3 linked regions of the Homo sapiens genome follow. The protein of the gene in region 3 purifies or fractionates together with the protein of the main gene of each other region. This does not show direct contact. Each region holds a gene or a part of one and is shown on either strand. Other genes may lie near its edges. The genes, in order: ABCC1, LBR and TMEM33.

The links.
Region 1: the proteins of TMEM33 (region 3) and ABCC1 fractionate together in Homo sapiens (co-fractionation; one large-scale study listed by BioGRID). This does not show direct contact.
Region 2: the proteins of TMEM33 (region 3) and LBR purify together in Homo sapiens (affinity purification with western blotting, with the first as the bait; one study listed by BioGRID). This does not show direct contact.

Annotation. Positions count from the first base shown.
Region 1 is NC_000016.10:15,947,993-15,951,744, reverse strand, and holds the start of ABCC1 (multidrug resistance-associated protein 1), read right to left. Parts: upstream 2,130-3,752; 5' UTR 1,994-2,129; coding exon 1,946-1,993; intron 1-1,945.
Region 2 is NC_000001.11:225,404,033-225,407,684, reverse strand, and holds part of LBR (delta(14)-sterol reductase LBR), read left to right. Parts: intron 1-852; coding exon 853-1,021; intron 1,022-2,978; coding exon 2,979-3,059; intron 3,060-3,158; coding exon 3,159-3,281; intron 3,282-3,652. UniProt on the Homo sapiens protein: Catalyzes the reduction of the C14-unsaturated bond of lanosterol, as part of the metabolic pathway leading to cholesterol biosynthesis.
Region 3 is NC_000004.12:41,952,277-41,955,928, forward strand, and holds part of TMEM33 (transmembrane protein 33), read left to right. Parts: intron 1-1,793; coding exon 1,794-1,923; 3' UTR 1,924-3,652. UniProt on the Homo sapiens protein: Acts as a regulator of the tubular endoplasmic reticulum (ER) network by modulating intracellular calcium homeostasis. Mechanistically, stimulates PKD2 calcium-dependent activity. Suppresses the RTN3/4-induced formation of the ER tubules.

The sequences.
Region 1 (3,752 bases), on a different chromosome or scaffold from region 3:
GCACTCCAGCCTGGGTGACAGAGCAAGACTCTGTCTCAAAAAAGAAAAAGAAAAAAAAAAGAAAAGAAAAAAGCAACAACTACCTACTTTCTAGCTTTCAGTTAATTATATTTCAATTTTCCCACTCAGGCCCCAGTTGCCTCCTCTCAAATTCTGGTTCCAAGGCACCTCCAACAAGTCTTGGAATCCAGACAGCAGAAATACGCAAGGTCAAACACGGGGATGGGGTACCTACCAGAGGCAGAGATCAGCTACAATTACCCCCAAGCAAAACCCAACCACCTGGCAATTTCTGTGGCAGAAAGTCCTTAACGAAGGAAAAAATAAAAAGAAAAAAGAAAATAAAAATTTTAAAAAATATTACAACTGGACTTCGTGAATGAGTTTCTTAAGATAAACAAAGCGCACCCCAAACATACTCATTAGCCATCAACTACCAATTGCCATCAATAAAATACGTCCTGATACAAAACCTCATGGATGTTCACCCTGTTTTGCCCCCTCCTCAATTCAGAAGAAAATAAACAAGAGAATATTCTGGAATTCACAGCAACACAAACCCAGATCACCATGTGAATCTTTGCAAAAAATAATCTTGCTGTTACTACACCTGGCAACAAGGAAGCCACAGGTTTTCCCCTGCTAAAGAAAGTCCATCTGCAAAGAGGCTCCAATCACCCCCAGACCCTCAAGGCAAAGTCTGTGTTCTATTTCCACCCCTGGGGTTACTCTCCAACCCCACTGGCTTAAAATGGGAGATATATCAAAGTGTGGTAGGTTATTAAACACAATGATACCCTACTAAAAAAAACAAACAAACAAAACCAAACCCTCCAATGGGGCCCTGGAGGATGACTTTTCAACACTCCAAATGCAACCCTCGAGGAAAGGCCGGCAAAACAGGACAAGAAAGTATTTTTGGAAGCTGATCACCAGCTCCTAAGAACCAAGGCTGTTTCTCCTGATTCCTAAACAAAAGAGGAGAGAGAAACAGTCGTGTCCAGATTTGCCTACTGCGTTCACCAACAATCAAGACAGCACGAGACAGAAGTGCCTGCCTTCCTGGAACAAAGAGGCAAATCGCATTACGGAGAAGCTGAAGCCCAAAAGACTGGGGCTTAAACCACAGCAAGTGGACTCCAGACACCCAGTCAGGCTCCGCAGGCCACGTTACAGAAGAAAACTTGCCGGGGTTAAATCTAAGGGGCATCCCCAGAGAGGAGCTCCACGTGTTGCAGGGAAGGGAGGGCAGGACCACAGCTACCAGGGTCCTGGGCGTCCTCAGCTGCACCCCAAGTCTGCCCCGAGCCGAGGGTCAGGTAGGGCACATCAAGGGTGGACATCCCCCTTCTTCCCTGGTTCCCCCAAACTTCCCCCGCAGTATCTAAGTAGAAAGAACAAAAAAAACAAAGCTAGGTAACCACAGAAGAGTAATGTGGCTTGTACGACAACTTTGGGGAGACAATGAAAGTCCCTTTCTACAATCTAAGCCCCTCCCCAGCTCACCCCGTTGGTCACGGAGTATTTTTCGTGAAAAGGGGGGACCCTAACCACAAAAAAGATGGGAAAACAGAAGCAGAGAGACACCCCTCTTCCCGCCCCCCATCTCTAGCGTCCCCTTCCCTGGAAGGTTGTTTTTACAGACGGGAACCCCAAAACAGGAAGGCCTCCTCACGGCGGCTCTGACCCGACCCGACCCTCCAAAACCCCAGGGCTGGGCACGCGGCCCCCCACGCTCTGCTCCGCAGGAACTGAGTCACCCAAGTTTCCCCCATGCCTTGCACCCCCGAAAGGGGCTGGGCCGCGGGCGACGTGAGGGTCCCGGGCCCCCGAGGCCGGCAGCAGAGCGGGGAGCGGGGTGCCCCGGGCGGCTGCGGGCCCGGTGCTTTCCCTCCCCGCCGGCCTCCCTCCGTCCCGCCGGCCTCACGCGGCCCCCGGCACGTACCCAGAGCGGGTCGGAGCCATCGGCGCTGCAGAAGCCCCGGAGCGCCATGCCGGTGGCGCGGGCGGCGGCGGGCACCGGGCGGCGGGTGATCGGGCCCGGTTGCTGGCGCGGGCGGCGGCGGGCACCGGGCGGCGGGTGATCGGGCCCGGCTGCTGGCGCTAGCGCTGGCGGCGGCGGCGGCGGCGGCGCAGGGAGCCGGGGCCGGGGCCGCAACGCCGCCTGGTTGGCCCGCGCGTCACGGGGATGCGGCGGCCCCGCCCCACCCCGCCCCGCCCCGGCGCCCGCTCACCTCGCGCGTCTCGGCGTGGGCAGCCGGACCAGCCACCTCTCGGCGCCCCGGGCCTGGACCCCGCGCCACCCCCACCCCAGATCCTCCAAGGCTTAGGCCCACCCGCTCGCGGACGGGCCTGGGGAGCGTTGGCTCGCCTTCCGGAAGCGCCTGGGATCTTTGGGGCCACACACCCTGCGACCACTTTTCAAATGCTGTTTAAGGACAGTATCCGTCACCAGGGGAAAATAACGTGAACGGAGCCCCCTACCTGCCTGGAGTGTACCGGGCGCCTTAACTGTGCCCTCATTTCATCCTGTAAAGTCTCCACGTTCATGAAGGAAGAAACCCAGGTGCAGAGAGGTTGAGTGATTCCCTCTGCCCAGGGTCACCTGGCTAATCACTTGCAGGGCTGGGATTTGAACCCGGTCCGCTGACTCCAAAGCTGAGTCACACAGAAGGAGGTGAATACTGTTATTCACCTACCTTTTACAGATGGGGAAACTGAGGTTCAGAAAGGCGAAGTGACTTGCCCGAGGTCACACAGTTAATAAGGAGTGAAAGTGGAAGTGAGATTCAAACCCGTGAGCAGCCTGATTCCGGAGCACTGATGACCCAGACGGCGCCAGTCTCCATCACTAACAGCTGTTGACCTCACCTGTGTGCAGAGCGCCTTTGCTTCTTCTCAACCTCTTTAAGCATCACTTAGAAATAACCAGGTTATTGATCCTCACCTCAGAGGTAAGGAAACTGAAGCCTGGAGACATGATAATCGTAGGCCAGGCATGGTGGCTCGTGCTTGTAATCAAGCACTTTGGGAAGCCGAGGCGGGCCGATCACATAAGGTCAGGAGTTCAAGACCAGCCTAGCCAACATAGCAAAACCCTGTCTCTACTAAAAACACAAAAATTAGCCGGGCATGGTGGCGGGCACCTGTAGTCCCAGCTACTTGAGAAGCTGAAACAGGAGAATCACTTGAACCTGGGAGGCGGAGGTTGAAATGAGCTTAGATCACACCACTGCACTCCAGCCTGGGCAACAGAGCAAGACTCTGTCTCAAAAAATAATAATAAAAAAAATTAATATGCATTCACAGTGACAAGGCTTCCTAAGGCTGTGTTCTTAGCAATTTACACAAATTAACTTGTGCAATCCTCACAACCCCATGAGGTAAGAAGTAGTATTATCCCCATTTTGCAGATGAGGCCACTAAGGCCCAGAAAGACAGAGTACATTGTCAGGGATTATTTAGATGGTAAGTGATTAAGCCAAACTTTGAACCCAAGAAGTCTGGCCAGGGAGGTGGGAAGTCTATAATACCATCCATTGCGCCATATTAGTTTTGAACTGTTTCATAGGCAGACAGGTAGAGACAGAGGAGCTAGGGCGAGGCCGCAGAGTGTAAATTTCACTGTGATACCAGCGATGCCTTTCTTTTCTCCTCTCCTCCTTAATCTCCTGCCTGATGTGGGTTTCCATAACACATGCACACAACAGCTGCACCAAATAAAACAGAAACAGTGTGTGCATTTGAGACCT
Region 2 (3,652 bases), on a different chromosome or scaffold from region 3:
CATCAGTGGTCTGTACTGAGGTTCTGGGTAGTTTAGAGATTCCCTTAGGCCAGACCTTCAGAGTGTTGACCTTGGTGGTGGTTCCGTATTCTAGAGTCTGGCCTGCCCGTATCCTGGGCCAGAGGCGATCTGGCTCATGCTAACCAAATCACCAGGGAGTAATGCACTTTTATTAATTTACATGAGAAGCGAAGCTGTCAGTTCACCATGTTGCCAGGCAGCTTAATTTCTTCTGTGGAAAATGCACATGAAATGCCAGATTATGAACAGAAATTAGATTGGTCCATGTGGAATTGAAACAAAAAGAGTTGGTGATCTTATTCCTTCAGCAAGCATATTTTGAACACTTCTCTCCATGGCGGGCACTGTGCTAGGTACTGGGGTGGCAAAGGTGAAAACACACAGCCTCTGTCTTTTAGAGGCTTTTAGTGTAGTGAAGAGTGACTAGACAAGTACAGTAACCCAATTACTGCAGCCTACTGGTGGGTGGTGATATCTGAGAAGTGCCCAGGTCTGAGCAGCAGGTCAGGAGGGCAGCAGAGGGTGTAGGGCCTATGTGGAGGTTGGAGGAGGGGTTGTCAGCAGAGGGGAGGGCCTGGGCATGGGGGCATGGGAGATGCTTTAGAGATCTGTTATCTCCAGAGCATGAGCGAGAGGCTGGCGTGACGGGAGAATGTGACAGCAGAAAGACCTAGCAGGCCAGGGGAACCAGATCTCTCTCCCCTTTAACAAAAAAATGTTGATTGTGGACCCGCCCATAGCACTTTTTACATTTGCCTGTAAACTAGTACTTTATTTGAATACTTTAAACACAGAAGCTCCTTCTCCCTTTCCCCGTCTGTATCCTTATAGGAAGCGTTGTTGACGACCATGGACATCATCCACGATGGATTTGGATTCATGCTGGCTTTTGGAGACTTGGTGTGGGTTCCCTTTATTTACAGCTTCCAAGCCTTTTATTTAGTCAGTCATCCAAATGAAGTGTCTTGGCCAATGGCTTCTCTAATTATTGTTCTGAAACGTGAGTATTAATTTTAGTCTCAGTTTAATTTATTAAATATTATGTACTGAGGCTTTTATGCCCTGCTGTCTACATACTTGAAACATGCCATTTTGAATGGCCAGCATTAGCTCAGTTTGAAGCCATTTATCATGAGTAATAAAAAATCTGCATTTTGCAAAGAGAATGGATGGTTCGTACTTGGGTTCTCAGTAGTACTTGAAACAGATTATTTTAAACCATCTTGCTTTTAAATTTAATAAATTTAAGTTGTTTTAATTCGTTTTGGTAACCATACGTCTTTTCTCTTGAGTGCCTGCTTTTTCTGGTAGGCATCTTATAAAGTAAGAAGATTTGTCTTGCCTTCATAGAGCTCACATTCTAACAGGAGAAATAAGACATTCCTGCCTTGCTGTGAGGTGTGTGAGTGAGCACTAAGAGGGGCTTAGATGACGGGTGTTAAAGATAGAGAGAACTTCTCTCTGGGGAGCGTTAGTGTGAACTTATCGGAGGATATGGTGTTCGATTGGAGTTTTAGAGGGGAAAATGGGATGGGGAGATCGAAAAGTCAGGCACTGGGAACAGCTCAGCAAGGGTGTGTGGTGGGGAAGTGTGAGATGAGGTTGGGAAAGACTGAGAAGTCCAGTTTGGCTGCAGCTGCGGTCCACCAGGGTCAGTCATGGATTTTACTTCAGGATGAATTTTCATTGTTCTTACACTGTTCACTAAACACTTATACTAGAGGTTGGGCAGGGAAAATTAGCAGTGAACTGCAAATACAGATAGTTTTGCTACACAAGTTAGTATCTGTGGTAGAAGAAGTTCAAACCATTGGTTAAAATTAAGATTTAGTTTCACCAGTGGTTTGGATGTCCATGTCATCCATTTTATTATTCAAGACAGTGTATTTTATAGTTCAGCTAAAAATGGGGAATGTCTTAGTTTGTTTTGTGCTGCTCGAACAGAATAGCTGAGACTAGGTAATTTGTCATGAAATTTATTTGGCTCATGGTTCTGGAGGCCAGGAAGTCAAAGAGCATGGTGCTGGAATCTGGCAAGACCCCTTCTGCTGCAGCATCCCAGGGTGGAAGGTGGAAGGACAAGAGAGAGTGAGGGAGGGCAAGAGAGAGTGAGGAAGAGCAAGAGGGGCTGAACATACTTTTATAACAAACCCACTCGAGATACTGAGCCCACTCCTGTGATAGCCACATTAATCTGTCCATGAGGGCAGAACCCTCATGACCTAATCATCTCTTAAAGGTGCTACCTCTCCACACTGTTGCATTGAGGATTACGTTTCCAACACGTGAACTTTGGAGAACACATTCAAACCAAAGCAGGAAGTAAAGTTATTCTCTTACTAGTTTATTGAGGATCGACTATATAATAGTTAAATGTCAGTGATAGATTGATTTTTGACATTCTGAAATTTGGATAAAATTAGGAACTTATAGACTTAAAGTGGGATTCAGCATGTATTTAAAGTGCAGGATGTTTTGGTGCTGATTCTAAGCTAGTGTTTGATAATAAAATGTTTGTGCCATGGCCAGTAGGTATAACTAACAGATGATATAGCTTGTAATTTTGATTACACTGAACTCTAGTATTGATTTTATTGTAATGTAGGCTATCTTAGATTTTATCTCTTTCATGGATGTAACTATATTTGTTTTGCCTTCAGAGCGTTTCCTAGGTGGATGATTAAAGTAGTGTGATAGATTTCGGACGGGTTACCATCTTTTTACATAGTGGGATTTAGAGGTTTTGAGTTGTTCTTAAGAATCAGGCCAGGTGCGGTGGCTCATGCCTGTAATCCCAGCACTTTGGGAGGCTGAAGCAGGAGGATCTCTTGAGCCTAGGAGTCTGCTTTGGAAATTTCCTCAGAGCATAGAAATCATTTTTAAGAGAAATTACAGATGCTATTAAGCATTAGAGTATAACTAAGTTATTAACATAGGAAAATATTTTAAAATTGCAGTTTGTGGTTATGTAATCTTCCGAGGTGCAAATTCTCAGAAAAATGCATTCCGGAAAAATCCCAGTGATCCAAAGCTTGCACGTAAGTATTGATTTATGTTTATATTATATATATTACATGAAGGTTTTATTTTTCTTTTTGTCTCGACATCATTAAAAATGTACTTTTATTTTTATATAGATTTAAAAACCATTCATACTTCAACGGGAAAAAATCTTCTAGTTTCTGGATGGTGGGGCTTTGTTCGCCACCCCAATTACTTGGGTGATCTCATCATGGCCTTGGCGTGGTCCCTCCCATGTGGTAAGCATTTCAGAAGAGTGCTAGTTTGACCCTTTTAGCCGCCAGAAAGATGTGTGTGTGTGTCCTTTGTGTGGGACAGTGTGGCCAAGGTGGGTGTGAGTCTTTTTGTCGCCCTTTTCTACTGTGAGGTTGGCCTCTGTAGAAGCTCCTCTGGCTTCTGAGGGGAATTGGGAATTCACAGAGCCTGAAGTTTTACTTTAAGCCTAAAAGCACTATTTTAAGTTTTCAGCTGTGCCTGATAGCTTTTTTCTAAGTAGAATATATAGAAATTAATTCAGCTTCTTAATTCATGATTCAGTGTACATAGATTGGGAAAAACTTTGGTTTTTAAGAAGAGAAAGAGATTCTGTTTTTCTTTTTGTGTGTCTGGC
Region 3 (3,652 bases):
TCCTGTCTTTCTGTGCAAGCATATTAAATACTTGTTTAGAAAAGTAGATTTGTTGCTTTTTTTCTAACCATAGAAGTAAAACAGGACACAAAAAGGTAGAATAGTAGTTGCATCTTTATACAGGATGAGTCAGCACATAAGGTGAAAATTGTGAATGGTTAAAATTACCCTTGATGATCCTTCATATCACTTATAAATGTCAGTACAGTATACATGATTTTGTGTATACTAGCCTGTATAATATATGTGATATCTACAGTATGTAATAATACTTTGTAGGCAGTGAGCACAGTTAAGACATAGGCAAAGCCCACATGGTTTTGGGCACAAACATGCAACATAAGTTGATGATAGGAGCGAGGGCAGGGAGTGGCAGGAGATGGGGCAGAAAATTAGATTGAGACTAGATTGTGGAGGGTATTGGGTGTGACACCGAGTACTTGGGCTTTAGTCGGAAGGCATAAAAGAGTCATAGTTCAGTGTATTGATCCAACTGGGAAGTAACATTTATTGAGCATCTTCCATATTGCATTTAAATTTCACCACAACTCAGAATTATTTTACAGAAGAGGAAATCTCTGAGGGACAATATGTACATTTAAGGAAATAGTGGGTGAATAAATATAACTGTCCATGTTATATATTTTAAAATATATAAAAAACACTGTCCATGTAGTATATTTTTTCTTGTTCTGTTTTAAAAAACTAGTTGAAATTGCCTAAGTTAAATGTGAAAATGATGTGACTCTAAAATATATATATATAATTTTTAAAATTTAATCTGAGGTTTTAGAGATAGCCATTTATTAAATACCTTTGTTAAATGAGTGTTTCCACCCATAAAAGATGTAGGTGTTGTTTGAGAATTTCATTGTATTTTGTGTTTTCTCTACAATGCATTCTAGTTATTCTTTTACTTCAAATTCTAATGGCTATGGTAGATTCCTTCATGAGTATTTGTTTAGCATTAGAGGCATACTTCAGAAATGTTGTGGGAGTGGTTCCAGACTACCACAATAAAGTGAATATCACAAAGCTGTCAGATGAATTTTTTGGTTTTCCAGTGCATACAGAAGTTATGTTTACACTCTACTGTAGTCTGCTAAGTGCGCAATAGCATTACCATCAGCAGTAAGGCTGTTCTGCTTTCTTATCATTCATCCGTTCACAGAAATGGGCTTTTAATTTTCTTCAGGAACTTTTCCTTTGCATTCACAGCTTGGCTATTTGGCACAAGAGGTCTAGCTTTTGGCCTGTCTTAGCTTTAGCCATGCTTTTTTCACTAAGCTTAATCATTTCTAGTTTTCATCTAAAGTAACAGACATGGGAGGCCTCCTTTCACCTGAGCACTTAGAGGCCATTACAGGGTTATTAATTGGCCTAATTTCAGTATTGTGTCTCAAAGAATAGGTAGGTCTGAGGAGAGGGAAAGAGACCAATCAGGAATGGCCTTCATGAACTGCTTCATCTTATATTTGTGCAGTTTGTGGTGCCCCAAAACAGTTACAATAGTAACACCAAAGAGATCACCGTAACAGAACAGATCACAGATCACCATAATAGATTAATAATGAAAACATTTGAAATAGTGGAAGAATTGGCAAAGTGTGACGCAGAGACATGAAGTGAGCACATGCTGTTGGAAAGTGGCACTGATAGTCTTGCTGTATGCGGTGTTGCAACAAACCTTCAATTTGTAAAAAATGAAATATCTATGGAGTACAATAAAATGAGGTAAGCCTGTGTATTGCTTTTTCCTTGTGTTTCTCAAAGAAAACTATTTTGTCTTGCAGGACCTTATTTAATGAACTGAGGATTGTTGTTGAACACATAATAATGAAACCTGCTTGCCCACTGTTTGTGAGAAGACTTTGTCTCCAGAGCATTGCCTTTATAAGCAGATTGGCACCAACAGTTCCATAGTTTAACATCTAGTTAAGCTACAAATATAGTATAAGCATTATTAGCAGCTGGTACTTCTGCTAGGGGTTGTAAATTCCAGGTGTTACACTGACCTCAATCCAATTTACATAATTTACATAAATGCATCTCGGTGGAAAAATAATCATTTTCTTGGCATGTTAAATCAAGCTTAAAAAGTTTTGAGAAAATTTTACTGCGCTGTGTTGCTAATGGTTAAAGAAGTCTGTATCTAGTGATAAATATACCAGTTTTTTTAAAAAGATGCTGTTGTGCCTATATCATGAAGTACATTAATTTCTCATGTAAAAAAAATAGCTCTAAAATTTGTTTCAACCTAATTGGTAACCTGAGTTTATATCTGGCATGAATTCATTATGGTGATACACATATGTGAATTCAGTACATTTTGAGACAGTATTCTACCATTCAGTAATTTTGGTTAATGATTTTAACACTTCTCAGTGTATTTAATTTCAAATTGTTTTTTTAATTGGTTTTATGCTGCTTTGTTAGGACAGATGTGTTTTGAATGTACCATTATAAGAAGAATTCTATGTATCTTAAACTATGATCTTCTAAAATTTTATTTCCGTAAGTACTTCTGTGGCCTTGAGTATTTTTTAAAAGGCTCAACTGTAAGCCTCTTAGCCAGTTGGATAAATATTTGGGGTCACCTAGCCATTGAAAGCAGAAAGCAGTAGTGACACAGCTTTCCCTTCAAAGAGCCATTGAGAAACATTTCTCAAACAGGAAATCCTTCTTTTACTAATGTGGACATATAGATTATTCGTATTATAGTTTGTAGAACTACCTAGTTCAGAATCTTGACTGCCAGTTTTCTTGGTTTCTTAGGCTTGAATTTTCATAGACAATTGCAACAGTTTAGATGCCTTTTGAAAGGAATGTAATGAAGATTCAGCATCTGACTATATGTGTGTCTATCCTGAAATAATAATGGAGAGTATACTGTAGATTACATGTTTACCCATCAAATCTGACTTAAAAGGTTAAATGGAAGGTTTTATAGGTAAGGTAATTGATTGGGAATGGGGTAGGGGGAGGAGTTGTGGGGGAATAATGTGCATTTCAGTCTCAACGCATAGATAAATTTAGGGGAATTGGATGTATTATTCAACTTTGATTTGGGTTGTAAAATGTGTTAAATCCTGTTCATTGAACTCCCATCAACTCTTATAAAATTCATGCTGATCTTCATTACCGTTGCATGATTGGAAATGTTTAAAACATTGTACAGTTTTAGTATAGAGAAATGTAATGGTTTTTGTGACCAGTTTCTGTCTGCATGTAATTTGGATTTCTCAAATACATTCATTAGTAATTTATCAGTAACATTAGTTTTATTTTTGTTCATCTCCTTATCTATAAAAAGGGGATATTCTTAGGATAAATACATGAAAAATTATACTTGATAGCTTAACTATAATCAGCTATTTTTGTATTTTTGTAATATTTGTCCACTAAGCTGGAGAAGCAGCCTCATACAGTTGATTTTGTGTATGTGGCTAGTCTTATTGTCACTATGTAAGTAATCCAATGGTTTTAGAAACTAAACTTTCTAGAGCAATAAAATGACTATAATGTTAAGTAAACATAATGTTGATTTCTAATTATGTTTTAAAAAATGAAGTCTTGAATTATATCAAGAAATTTTGGCAGCTGAAGTCATGTTTATTTTGAAGCTGTTAGTTTTTTCCTATAATTTAAAAAG